Linked DNA regions of Homo sapiens. The protein of the gene in region 1 interacts with the protein of each later gene in a pairwise test. Each region holds a gene or a part of one and is shown in the gene's direction. Other genes may lie near its edges.

Region 1 (3,754 bases):
TATTAGCTTCTGTTATTATTTGCAATTTAGCCCAGGCTGTGGAGTTTTGTACAGAGTTTTATGTACCCATTTCCCAGATCACCCCTTCCTTTGAGAATGGTTTGCTATGGTCTATGTTTGTGTTCCCTGCAAATTCCTATGTTGAAATCTTAACTCCCAGGGTGATGGCATTAGGAGAGGGGAGCTTTCCGAGGTGATTAGGTCATGAGGGCAGCATCTCCATGAATGGGATTAGTGACCTTATAAAACAGGCCTCAGGGAGCTTGTTTGCCCCTTCTACCACATGAGGACTCAGCCAGAAGGCACTATTTATGAACCAGGAAACCGACCCACATTAAACACCAGGCACTCTGTCAGCATCTTGATGTTGGACTTCCAGCCTCCAGAACTGAGAAATAAATTTCTGTTGTTTCCAAGCTTCCCAGTTTACAGTATGTTGTTATAGCAGCCCCAACAGATGAAAAAAAAAAAAAAAAAAAAAAACATGGTTACAATGCAGAACTCCATGGCGGGCTCAGGTTTGCTCTCCTCCCATCTCCCAATCCTGATATTGGGAGTCTGTTGACTCTTAGGAGGTGGGTTTGTTTATGGTTTGTCCTCCTTGTCCAGCCTACAGTTCTTTCTGCTAGTACTTTTAAGCCCTGGTTAAGTCATTGAAAAGCACCAATTACAGACTTACATAACTGTGTCAGGAGCATTTCTCTGAGGGATTTGCTCACCCCTCGGAGTCAGTTGCCCAGGGAAACAAGCTGGCGATGTCACAAGGCATCCACTTCTAGTTCTTCCTCAGTTCCCTTCTGTGGAACCTGAGTCAGAGCCTAGTCCGGCATGCTGCCTAGCCCAGCCACGTCTCATCCTATTCATGGCAGAGCGGGGACTCTCACCCTCTCCCAGCAATGTCTAAAGTCAGGTATTTTGGGGTCATGGCCATAGTAAGGATGGTCTCCTGTGCTGCTTCTTCCCTCCCAGGGCACAGAAATGCCTATGCAAATGGAGTGTCTAGGACAGCCCTGGGTTACTCTTGGTTCTCTAGGGTATAGTTACAAAAGTGAAAAAAAAAAGAAAAGAAACCATTGGAGCTGCTCCCTGGAGGATCAAAGGTTGTTGCAGACTTTCTAGAATCTCAGAGACCTCAGGAGCAAAATTACAACACACTTTTCCTTTCTACTGTTCATGCCCTAAGCACACCCATGATCTGGTTTATCAACCTGCTCCTCCTTTTCTCAAGAGATAAGGTTGCAACTTCCTTGTTATATGCAAATGAAAAGAAAAGAGACTACAGCCATGGAAGTATTTCGCTAGATTTTCCTAGTATTTCATGCTTACTTCATTTAACCATGCCCCTGCCCCAGTGCCCTAGTGAAACAGTACAATGTACAGCTCTTGCATTGCTACCTGCCCTTCTCAAAGCCCACATGTTGTATTTTATGCAAATCTACAGATTATCTATCATTATCTAAATGCAGGCATCTGAAAACCAGCAGTAATCCTGCCTCTGAAGTTTATCAGGAAAGGAGCTTAAAAGAGAACCAAATTCAGCCTGTGTTGGAACTCTCAGTCCCAGAGGGGTGTGGTTTGTAGCTCTCCGGCCTGCTGTTGGACTTAGGCTGTGACCCACAGAAGGACGCCAGAAAGTACTCAAGACATTCACGGTGCCCCGGTCAGCACTCGCCATGACGAAGACTTCTACATGCATATACCACTTCCTTGTTCTGAGCTGGTATACTTTCCTCAATTATTACATCTCACAGGAAGGAAAAGACGAGGTGAAACCCAAAATCTTGGCAAATGGTGCAAGGTGGAAATATATGACGCTGCTTAATCTGGTAAGTCCATATGTCCGTACCAGGAACCGATCCATTTCTCTAGAATATCAGTGCTGCCACACATATCATCTTTGGATTTTATTAAATACACAATTTTGTTATTTGTCTTCCTTCTTCACCGTTTTGTGAGTTTTGGGTTTTTTGTTTACTTAACAATTTGCTCTGATAAACCCAATTTGGAAATTATCTATAGTTAACATTTCTATGCTGGCTCATTGTTAAATGCTCTCTTGAAAAAAAAAATCTCATCTTGGAGCTCTTTTCAGATGAGCTCAAAGAGGGGACCATGCTAATGGTTTCACCATGGGATTAACTACAAATGCAGGAGGCATTTTGAACTTTGCTTGGGGAAGTCTGTGAAGAGAAGGCAGAGTGGCGTATGGTGTGTAGGAAGTGTAATTTCCAATGAAGGAATAATGCCATTTTACAGCACACACAGACTAACAGATTTATCTAAGAAAAGCAAACACATTTTGCCATGTTCAGCTCCCACCTCAATTTTTTATAGGTTCAGGCTCCATCTTAAAGGACAAATCACCCAACCGAATGGCAAATACACATTTTCAACTATTTAAAAACCAATCTTATGACTTACTCCTTTCTTGTCTTCCTAACCTGGCTGACTGCATTCTGATGAAGTGTGAATGAATGGGAGAAAAGCAGATTATGAAAAATACTTTGAGGAATAGCTTAAAAAAATACTTTTAAAGTTAAAAGCTAATAATGGGGAATCATTTGGGGATGTGAATTAATATTTGAGGTTTTTGACTAAAATCTTGGGTGCCACATAAACATCTGTTTTCAGAATTGTAATCCTCATTTGACAAGCGGAGAATGTATGTGGTCAGAAACTGTGACACTCTGAAATGCTAAGGACGTGGAAATGGAGAGAGTTAAAATCAAAGAGGCCCAAAGTGGCTGCTTCCTCCTCACTGGTTGGTTAGTGGCCTCTTGATTTGGGCCTGAAAAATTGGAACCCTGAACACAGCTCTAGTGTCTTTGAAAACTTCAAGGTGACTACTTGTTTCAATCATGGAATTTTATGAGAAAAACAAACAGAAACAAAACAAAAAATGTTTTTTGTATAACTAGCAGTGCCACAGTAAACAACAACAACAAAAAACCACACACACACACGCGCATACACACACACCCCTAAGGTTTGTGTCTCTATTGGCTTTCTATGAAAAACAGTCCACTAAAAGGGAAGTGTGTCTGTAGTTAGGACTGACTTTCTAATAAAATCCAATTCCAGTATGAATGTCCTACCTCACACTATGTGTGGCTAAGAATAGATTTATCACCACACTCATTAACTAGCTCCCTTACCTCTTTGTATACACACACACACACACACACAACTGATCCTGACTTTTTAATTCTAGCTCACCTACATTTCCAAGAGCCCTTATTTTCCAAGAGTGAGAAAAGTCTCTTATCTTGTCAATGATACTATCATTTCCTAGTGTTAATCCCAATTTTGCTTCCCTGATTGATCAGCTACCAAATCCTATTAGTTTTTCCTTTTACTAAGTTCATCCTTTCTTCTTCAACCTTACTACTGTCTCTCTCATTCCAGGCTTATATTAAGCCTACCTGGATGACCATATCATCTCTTTACTGTCCATTCATGGTCCAATCCAGCCACTTAGATTCCAAATTAATCTTCTCAAAGCACTGGTTTTGGTTTGTTTTTTAATACCATGACCTGGATCTAAAAGTGTGGCCTGCCGCTCAGGAAACCACAGTGGCTCCCTCCTGCCTCATGGACCCAATGTCAAACTCCCGATTCAAGAGCTCACCTGCCCAACCAGCCTTTCGGGTTCCCTCTCCCTGGGAGGCTGGTCTCTTCTGCAGTAAGGACTGCGTCTCACTAGTATTGGTCCTTGGGCTTCCTGCTGTCACTTCTCTGCCCGGTGTTCTCTCTA
Region 2 (3,654 bases), on another chromosome or scaffold:
CTTGGCAGAGGCACGAGGGCTCAGGTCTGCTGAGGAAATGTTCCCAAGCATGGGTGGCAGGAGACAGGGTCCTGAGACCACCAGACACCTCCCCAGCCCAATCAGAAGCCGACGTCTCTTGAAAACTGCCTCTTGAGTTTTCTGTAGAGATTTTTCATCGTAGACCTCAAAATCTCATTTCTTTCTGGAAGGATGCTCAGCCAGGCTGAGAACCTGGGCAAACTTTCTGGCACCTGGCTGGTTGCGGGTGTACACTCAAGCTGCAACCAGACTAGTTTGGTTCCAGAGTCCTCAGGGGACCATCACTTTTCTCAGATCATGTCAGCTTCCTTCATCTCTTGTGAAATTTAAACCCTCTGCTCCTTCCAAAAAATCATGTCTTCTTTCTAGTAAGAATTCTGACAGAATGGAGTCAGAAAGGACACAGGTTCCAGGGAGTGATGTTTCTTATCTGGAATTCTAATTCCAGTGATTCTGTGGTATCATGGCTGGTCTGTGGGACCCTTGCTTTGAGTTGAGGGCTCTTGCAGTGTTACTTTTAAACCCCTGGACATGGCTGGGCACCGTGGCTCACACCTGTAATCCCAGCACTTTGGGAGGCTGAGACGGGTGGATCACTTGAGGTCAGGAGTTCGAGACCAGCCTGACCAATATGGTGAAACCCTGTCTCTACTAAAAATATAAAAATTAGCCGGCCGTGGTGGTGCACACCTGTAGTCCCAGCTACTCAGGAAGCTGAGGCAGGAGAATCGCTTGAACCCAGAAGGCAGAGGTTGCAGTGAGTGGGGATAGCGCCACTGCACTCCAGCCTGGGTGACAGAGTGAGACTCTGTCTCAAAAGAAAAAAATAGGCCGGGCGCGGTGGCTCACGCCTGTACTCTCGACACTTTGGGAGGCCAAGGCATGCAGATCGCAAGGTCAGGAGATCGAGACTCTCCTGGCCAACATGGTGAAACCCTGTCTCTACTAAAAATACAAAAATTAGCTGGGCATGGTGGCGCATACATGTAATCCCAGCTACTTGTGAGGCTGAGGTAGGAGAATCCCTTGAACCAGGGAGGTGGAGGTTGCAGTGAGCTGAGATGTTGCCACTGCACTCCTGCCTAGCGACAGAGTGAGACTCCATCTCAAAAAAATAAAATAAATAAAATAAACCCCTGGACATTTATGTTAGATATTTTATTTTTATGACAGTTCAATATAAAAGAACAAACCGTTACGAGAGGAGCTAGAAGGCACCTTAAGAGGCAAGTGAACCCTTTGGACAGCATCACTTTGAAGTTACTCTACACAGAAACATCTGTCTTCCAGGAGCCTCCCAGCTGCTTCACTCCGTCCTGAAGTCAGAACCCCTACCTCCAGTCCTCTCTGAATTCAGGCGTGTTTGTGCATTTGCTTTTCTAACTGGGAACACGAAGACACCTGAGAGGGTTGGAGCTGGCGGGAGGAGGGCAGGGATAAACACCCCAGCGCCTTTTCCCCACTATTGTCTTGTTCTTTCTTCCACTTCACCTTTGCTTTCTTTTTTAACTTGTATATTAAGTTCAGGGGTACTTGTGTAGGTTTCTTATATGGTAAACTTGTGTCATGGGAGGGGGTTGTTGTACAGATTATTTTGTCACCCAGGAATTAAGCTTCTAAATAATTCAGGGGGCCCCAGCATTTGCAGAAGTTACCTACTGGCTTTAGAAGAATTTCTGAAAAGTTTGATGTCAGTCAAATCTTTTTTTTTTTTTTAACTTAATATGCTGGCTAAGATGCTGGCTATTTAAAGTTGGAATGAATGAATCCCTGGGCAAAAAGGAAGCTTTTAGGAGCACGCATAAGCACACACCATACTCTGGCTAAATTAGATTTTCTAAAATTGGGCTTTCCTAAAGAAAGTCATATGGTAGATGGCCATAGGCCCAGTGAACCGAATTCAGAAAGTGTTATTTCATGAGCAAGTTTCCCAGAAAGGTTCGAGATGTTTCTGATAGAGCAGGAATGTACTTCCTACTACACAGTACTCAGCCCTGGAGGCTCAGAGCAGGAAGACCTGACCTGCACAGGCCCCTTTTGTTGGCTGGGAAACTTCCACATCCCTGTGTCACCATGAAAAAGAGCTAACTTTGTCTTCAACGACGAGTTGGAAAATTATTTTAATCTCTGCATTAAACTAGATGCAAAATTGCCTCTCTACCTAGGAATCACGCTGCATAATCCCACATTATCTGCATTTTCAGTCATGCCTTGAATAATGATACTTGAGTTCTTGAGGAGGTCATTGTGGGGCTGGGAAGACCCCTAGACTTCCCCATGTAGATGTGGCCTGGAAGTAAGACTAACGTAGCAGCAAAGCCCTGGCGATCATGCACACTCCTGAGTAAGGCAGAGGTGTGAATCATTATATCACCATGGCTGGCTAGCTTCAGAGGAACCGAAAAAATGAAAACACTTGCGTTGCTCATTAGCAAAGGGAAATACACAAATGTTGAGGGACTCTTTGTGTCACAGCCACACTCTTCTGTTTCGATCTGGTAAGCAGAGCACTCTCCATACCTGCTTCAAGCTTCCAGCTGAGAGTTCTCTTTTAGCTGTTGTACCTATTGCTGAGGATCTTGATAGTGGGCTAGCAACAAGGGGCTTTAGAAAATAAGAGCATTTCAGCATCAACTGTTTTAACTGGAGTAAGATCCATTTTGTGATTTGATTTGATTTTTATTTTTTTAGAGACAGACTTTCACTCTGTCTTGCAGGCTGGAGTGCAGTGACGTGATAATAGCTCACTGCAACCTCAACCTCCTAGGCTCAATTGATCCTCCCACCTCAGCCTCCCAAGTTGCTGAGACCACAGGTGCATGCCACCACGCCCAGCTAGTTTTTGTATTTTTTGTAGAGACAGGGTCTTGCTTGTTGCCCAGGCTGGTCTCAAACTCCTGGCTTCAGGTGATCCACCCGCCTTGGCCTCCCAAAGTGCTGGGATTGCAGGCGTGAGCCTGGGATGCCAGGCATGCACCAGGCCCCATTTTGTGATTTAATTCTCATTGTAGACTGACATTTTCTATAGCAGAATTTTTCAACAGTAGTACTGTAGTTGAGGGGCCACATTTGGGGCTGGAGATGGGTAACTCTTTACTATGGGAGCTCTCCTATTTATTGCAGGGTGCTTAGCAGCACCCTGGGCCTCTACCCACTAAATGCCAGTAGCAACCCCCATCCCCGCAAATTGTGTAAACCAAAAATATATACACACATTGCCAAATGTCCCATAGGACACAAAATCATATACCCATACGCTAACACACCCATACACTAACACCACACGCATACACACACACACACACACACACACACACACACACACTTTAAGACTCGCTGCTCTGGCCAGGCGTGGTGGCTCACACCTGTAATCACAGCACTTTGGGGAGCTGGGGCAGGCAGATTACTTGAGTTCAGGAGTTTAAGACCAGTCTGGCCAACATGGTGGAACCCCCTCTCTACTAAAAATGCAAAAATTAGCTGGGCATGGTGGTGCATACCTGTAGTCCCAGCTACTCTGGAGGCTGAGGCAAGAGAATCGCTTGAATCTCGTAGGCAGAGTTGCAGTGAGCCAAGATCATGCTACTGCACTCCAGCCTGGGCAACAGAGTGAGACTCCATCTCAAAAAAAAA
Region 3 (3,654 bases), on another chromosome or scaffold:
AGAGGCATTTTTCAGATAACGTAAGAGTAGGTCCTAAGCATTAGTCTTATTCCTCTTATTCCTTGATTTTCTTATATAATCTTAAAGTCAGTCCTTTAACGTGCTTCTTCATAGAACAGCAAGCGGGCAGGGAAACCTACAGGTATCTGGGAAAGCGGAGAACCTTGTATCTTATTTGCTGCTTTTCAGGAATCCTAGGGTCACTTTATAGCACGTTTATCTGCAATTCCTATCTTCGTTAGCTAGTCCTTTCACCTACTAAATGATAGAATATCGGGATCTTTTCTTCTAAATATCTCTTTCTCCCTCTCAGAAATGTCCAGACACTTCTGAAGCTAGGAAGGCTCCTCTCAGGCTAAATCATTTTCTCAGTGGAGACATTATTGGCATTTGGGATGGGACATTGTTTGTTGTGTAGGTACTATCCTGATTTTAGCACTCCTGGACCCTTGGGTACTAAATGCAGATATCACCTAATAGTCACTGTGATGACCAAAAGATCACCAGACATTTCCAAATGTCTGTAGGAGGGCAATAATCTCCCCGCTCTGTGAAAGCCACTGGGTCACCTGGTCCTTCCGCTCACCTTCAGGCAGGACTTACGCAGTCTCTGAACACTTTGCCATTTTGCTCACGCAGAACCCGTTCCAGCTGGAGATGTGGAGAGAGGCTCCAGGAGCTCCTTGCGGGGTCGCTATGGGGAGGTCATGCCTGTGTACCGGCGGGACAGCCACCGAGACGTGCAGGCTGGCAGCCATGACTACCCTGGTGAGGGCATCTACCTGCTCAAGTTCGACAACTCCTACTCCCTGCTGCGCAACAAGACTCTCTACTTCCACATCTACTACACCAGCTGAAGGACTGCTGGGACAGGGGCAGGCTGTATTTGCTGGCTGAAGCAGGCTGCCAGCTGGTGCCTCTTGTTTGGGATAGGCAAGAGCCAAAGGTTCATGGGGGGCTGCTGAGCCTCACACCCTGTCTGGCATGCCTGACTGTTGGCCCACGTAGCTTTTTCCCCTTCTTGGCTTCTGCAGGTGGTGGTGTAGTGCCCCTGTTCTGTAGTCCCTGACTCATACCCTTCTTGCTTCAGACTCCAGCAAATTCCCTCTTGAAGGCACCTATGGGGCACAAGCCTAAAAGGAAGCAGGGCGATGTTTTTTAAAAATAGATTCATCTTGGCACAGGTTTATCATTCAGATTGCTGCCCTCTCCTCTCCCACAGCCCTTATTGCCAGTGCATTTAGTGGCACCCACTCTCTTCAGTTGTTGAGGTGCCAGAAGAGGGAAAAGCACATTGCCCATGAAGGAGCCCCATCTTTTGGTTGGAGAAAGCTCTATCCAGCCTGTCACCACTGCCATATTCCTGCCTGCTGGTTATTCTTGGTCTCTGCATAGCTGGGAGACCACACTGCCTTTGGAGGGCTATTACTATTCCTGATGGTAGACACCCCCTCCTTTCTCTTTCCTAAGTCTATGTTTTTGCCATTACAGCAAGAACATTCATGCAATCTCAAGTGATGATCAATGTAACCTAAGATCTTGTGGGAAGAAAAACTGCCCCCATTATTTCCTATTCCAAGAGCTGGTTTCCCTTACTATGGGCACTGGCAGTCAAAGTGGAGAGAGTGGAAATTAGGTACTGAATTGATGTCAGAACCCACATATTTGAAAGTCGTGTTACTTTTTTTTTTTTTTTTGGTATAATCAAAGAAGGAATGGTATCATCTGACAGAGAAGATGAAAAACAAAAAACACTCCAGAGTCCCCACCGCTTTTTTTTGTCTTTAGAGTAGGAGTGCTGTTTAGAAATGTTGCTTTGGAATCAAATGCAGTGAAACCCAATCAGGTTTCCAAAGTTTCTGCATTTAGCTTTCTTGCATTGAGGGCTTAAAGCTTTTGGTGTTCAAAGTCCCTTAGTTTAGGTGATAATGAAGCTTCACTATTGCTGCTGATTGTATTTGTTCTTTACCTGACCAAAGCTTGCATTTCCCTGGTGACAGCATTTCCTACTGTGTCACCCCTGAGGCTCAGGAGTGCCACAGAGTGCAGGTAGTGCTGCAGCCAGTGGTCACCAGAGCACCAGCTGCTGGGCCCCCAGGCGGAGGAGGAGACGGAGGTGAGATGGGACCTCAGCAGTCTCTGTGTTTGTACCTCCCTGTCTCTTACTCCTCGTGTTATGTCTGTTACTGCCTACGAATTCTGAAGAATAATTAGATTTATTTATTACTGTATTTATTTTTTTAGCACATTTCATTTTGCCTTTGAAACAGTTTCCATCTGTTTCTCAGAAGGCTTCCCATCTGTTCTGAGCCACTGAAGCCCCCTCTTTTATGGAGTTAAAGATGATATTTTTAGGAGAATTTGGGAAGCGATGATGTTTTATTTCTGTAGGTCAGTCCTGTGACGGCTTTGCGAGGAGTATGGCCCTTCAGAGATGGATGATGCCACCTTACTCCATGTTTGGGGTACAGTCCAGCACTCCCCATGAAAAATTCTAAGTTGTGAGGGAATCTGCCCATTTGCTGGAGATTGAGTGCAGAGGAATTCCCTAACCAATCAGAGATATCCCGTGATTCCAGGATTTCAGAGTCCTTTGTCTCCTCTGAGGTGTCACCTTCTTTGTGATGTTTCCTTTGACTCATTGTTAGATTCCTCACACCAAGGGTCTATCCCTACAGTAGCATAACTCAAGGAACGGGACTCTTCCCAGTGGGTCCCTAGTAGCATCTACATCACATCAAAGGGCAATATATCCTGCACCTGCTCTTCCCCTCGGAGCAAAGCCCCAAGTGGGATAGGATGTTGGGGACTGCCAGAGCATTCCCATTCTCTGAGCAGCATCATACCTCCATTATTTTATATTTGCAAATGTGTTTTGTAGAGGATTACACTGGCCAACATTTATATACCTTTAAAGAAATTATTTTAGTGACTGTCTGTTGAGGCAGTGAAGAGCTGATTTGCTGTGTGTCATCCCATTGGATAGCTGAGTGACCGCTCTTGCATCATTGAAGTTGAATCATGCCTTAGCTAACTGAATATAATCTTTGTAAAATAATTTTCTACTGAGCTGTTTTCTAGTCAGCTAAAGCCTTGCTTATTTTTCCTGTTTATTATTAACTTCTGCCTTTCTCTCAAATTGAAACAGTCAGGCCATACACAGCAAGCTCCCAAGGATAACACTTGTTATTATTTATTTTCACCATGAGATTCTCTGCTTATTTTCTTTGGAATCCTAGTTCTGTTGCATCAGGGAAGCCTAAGGGACTTGTTCCCCTCACCTCTGTGTGCCTCTTAGGGTCTGGTCACTTTTGAAGTCCTGGGCATGGTTACATTTCATTCATACTGGTTTTTCACCAACTGTCAGGGTTTCTGTGTTCCATTAGCACAAAATAGCTAAAAGAAGATATTTTCACTGTCTAATTCACTATTTTCATGTTACATTTCTGAAATAATTGAACTTTAGGGGCAAGATACTACTTACTGAAGCACAGGTAATTACTGAGAACCCACAGCCCAGCAAATTCTAAGAGACAGTCATTTCCTCAGCCCCTCCCAGTCCAAATTTATAGACCCAAACAATGAAATGAAAACCGTTTGCTTTGATCCTCACCCTGTTCTCTAGAGCACAAACAAATAGTAACAAACAATTGA

The links.
Region 2: the proteins of ADTRP (region 1) and CMTM7 interact in binary tests that used the Homo sapiens proteins (3 or more experiments, as listed by UniProt).
Region 3: the proteins of ADTRP (region 1) and TMED8 interact in binary tests that used the Homo sapiens proteins (3 or more experiments, as listed by UniProt).

What each region holds. Positions count from the first base shown.
Region 1 is NC_000006.12:11,776,679-11,780,432, reverse strand, and holds the start of ADTRP (androgen-dependent TFPI-regulating protein), read left to right. Parts: upstream 1-1,629; 5' UTR 1,630-1,673; coding exon 1,674-1,826; intron 1,827-2,691; exon of another isoform or gene 2,692-2,839; intron 2,840-3,754. UniProt on the Homo sapiens protein: Hydrolyzes bioactive fatty-acid esters of hydroxy-fatty acids (FAHFAs), but not other major classes of lipids. Show a preference for FAHFAs with branching distal from the carboxylate head group of the lipids.
Region 2 is NC_000003.12:32,436,761-32,440,414, forward strand, and holds part of CMTM7 (CKLF-like MARVEL transmembrane domain-containing protein 7), read left to right. Parts: intron 1-3,654.
Region 3 is NC_000014.9:77,338,974-77,342,627, reverse strand, and holds part of TMED8 (protein TMED8), read left to right. Parts: intron 1-639; coding exon 640-857; 3' UTR 858-3,654.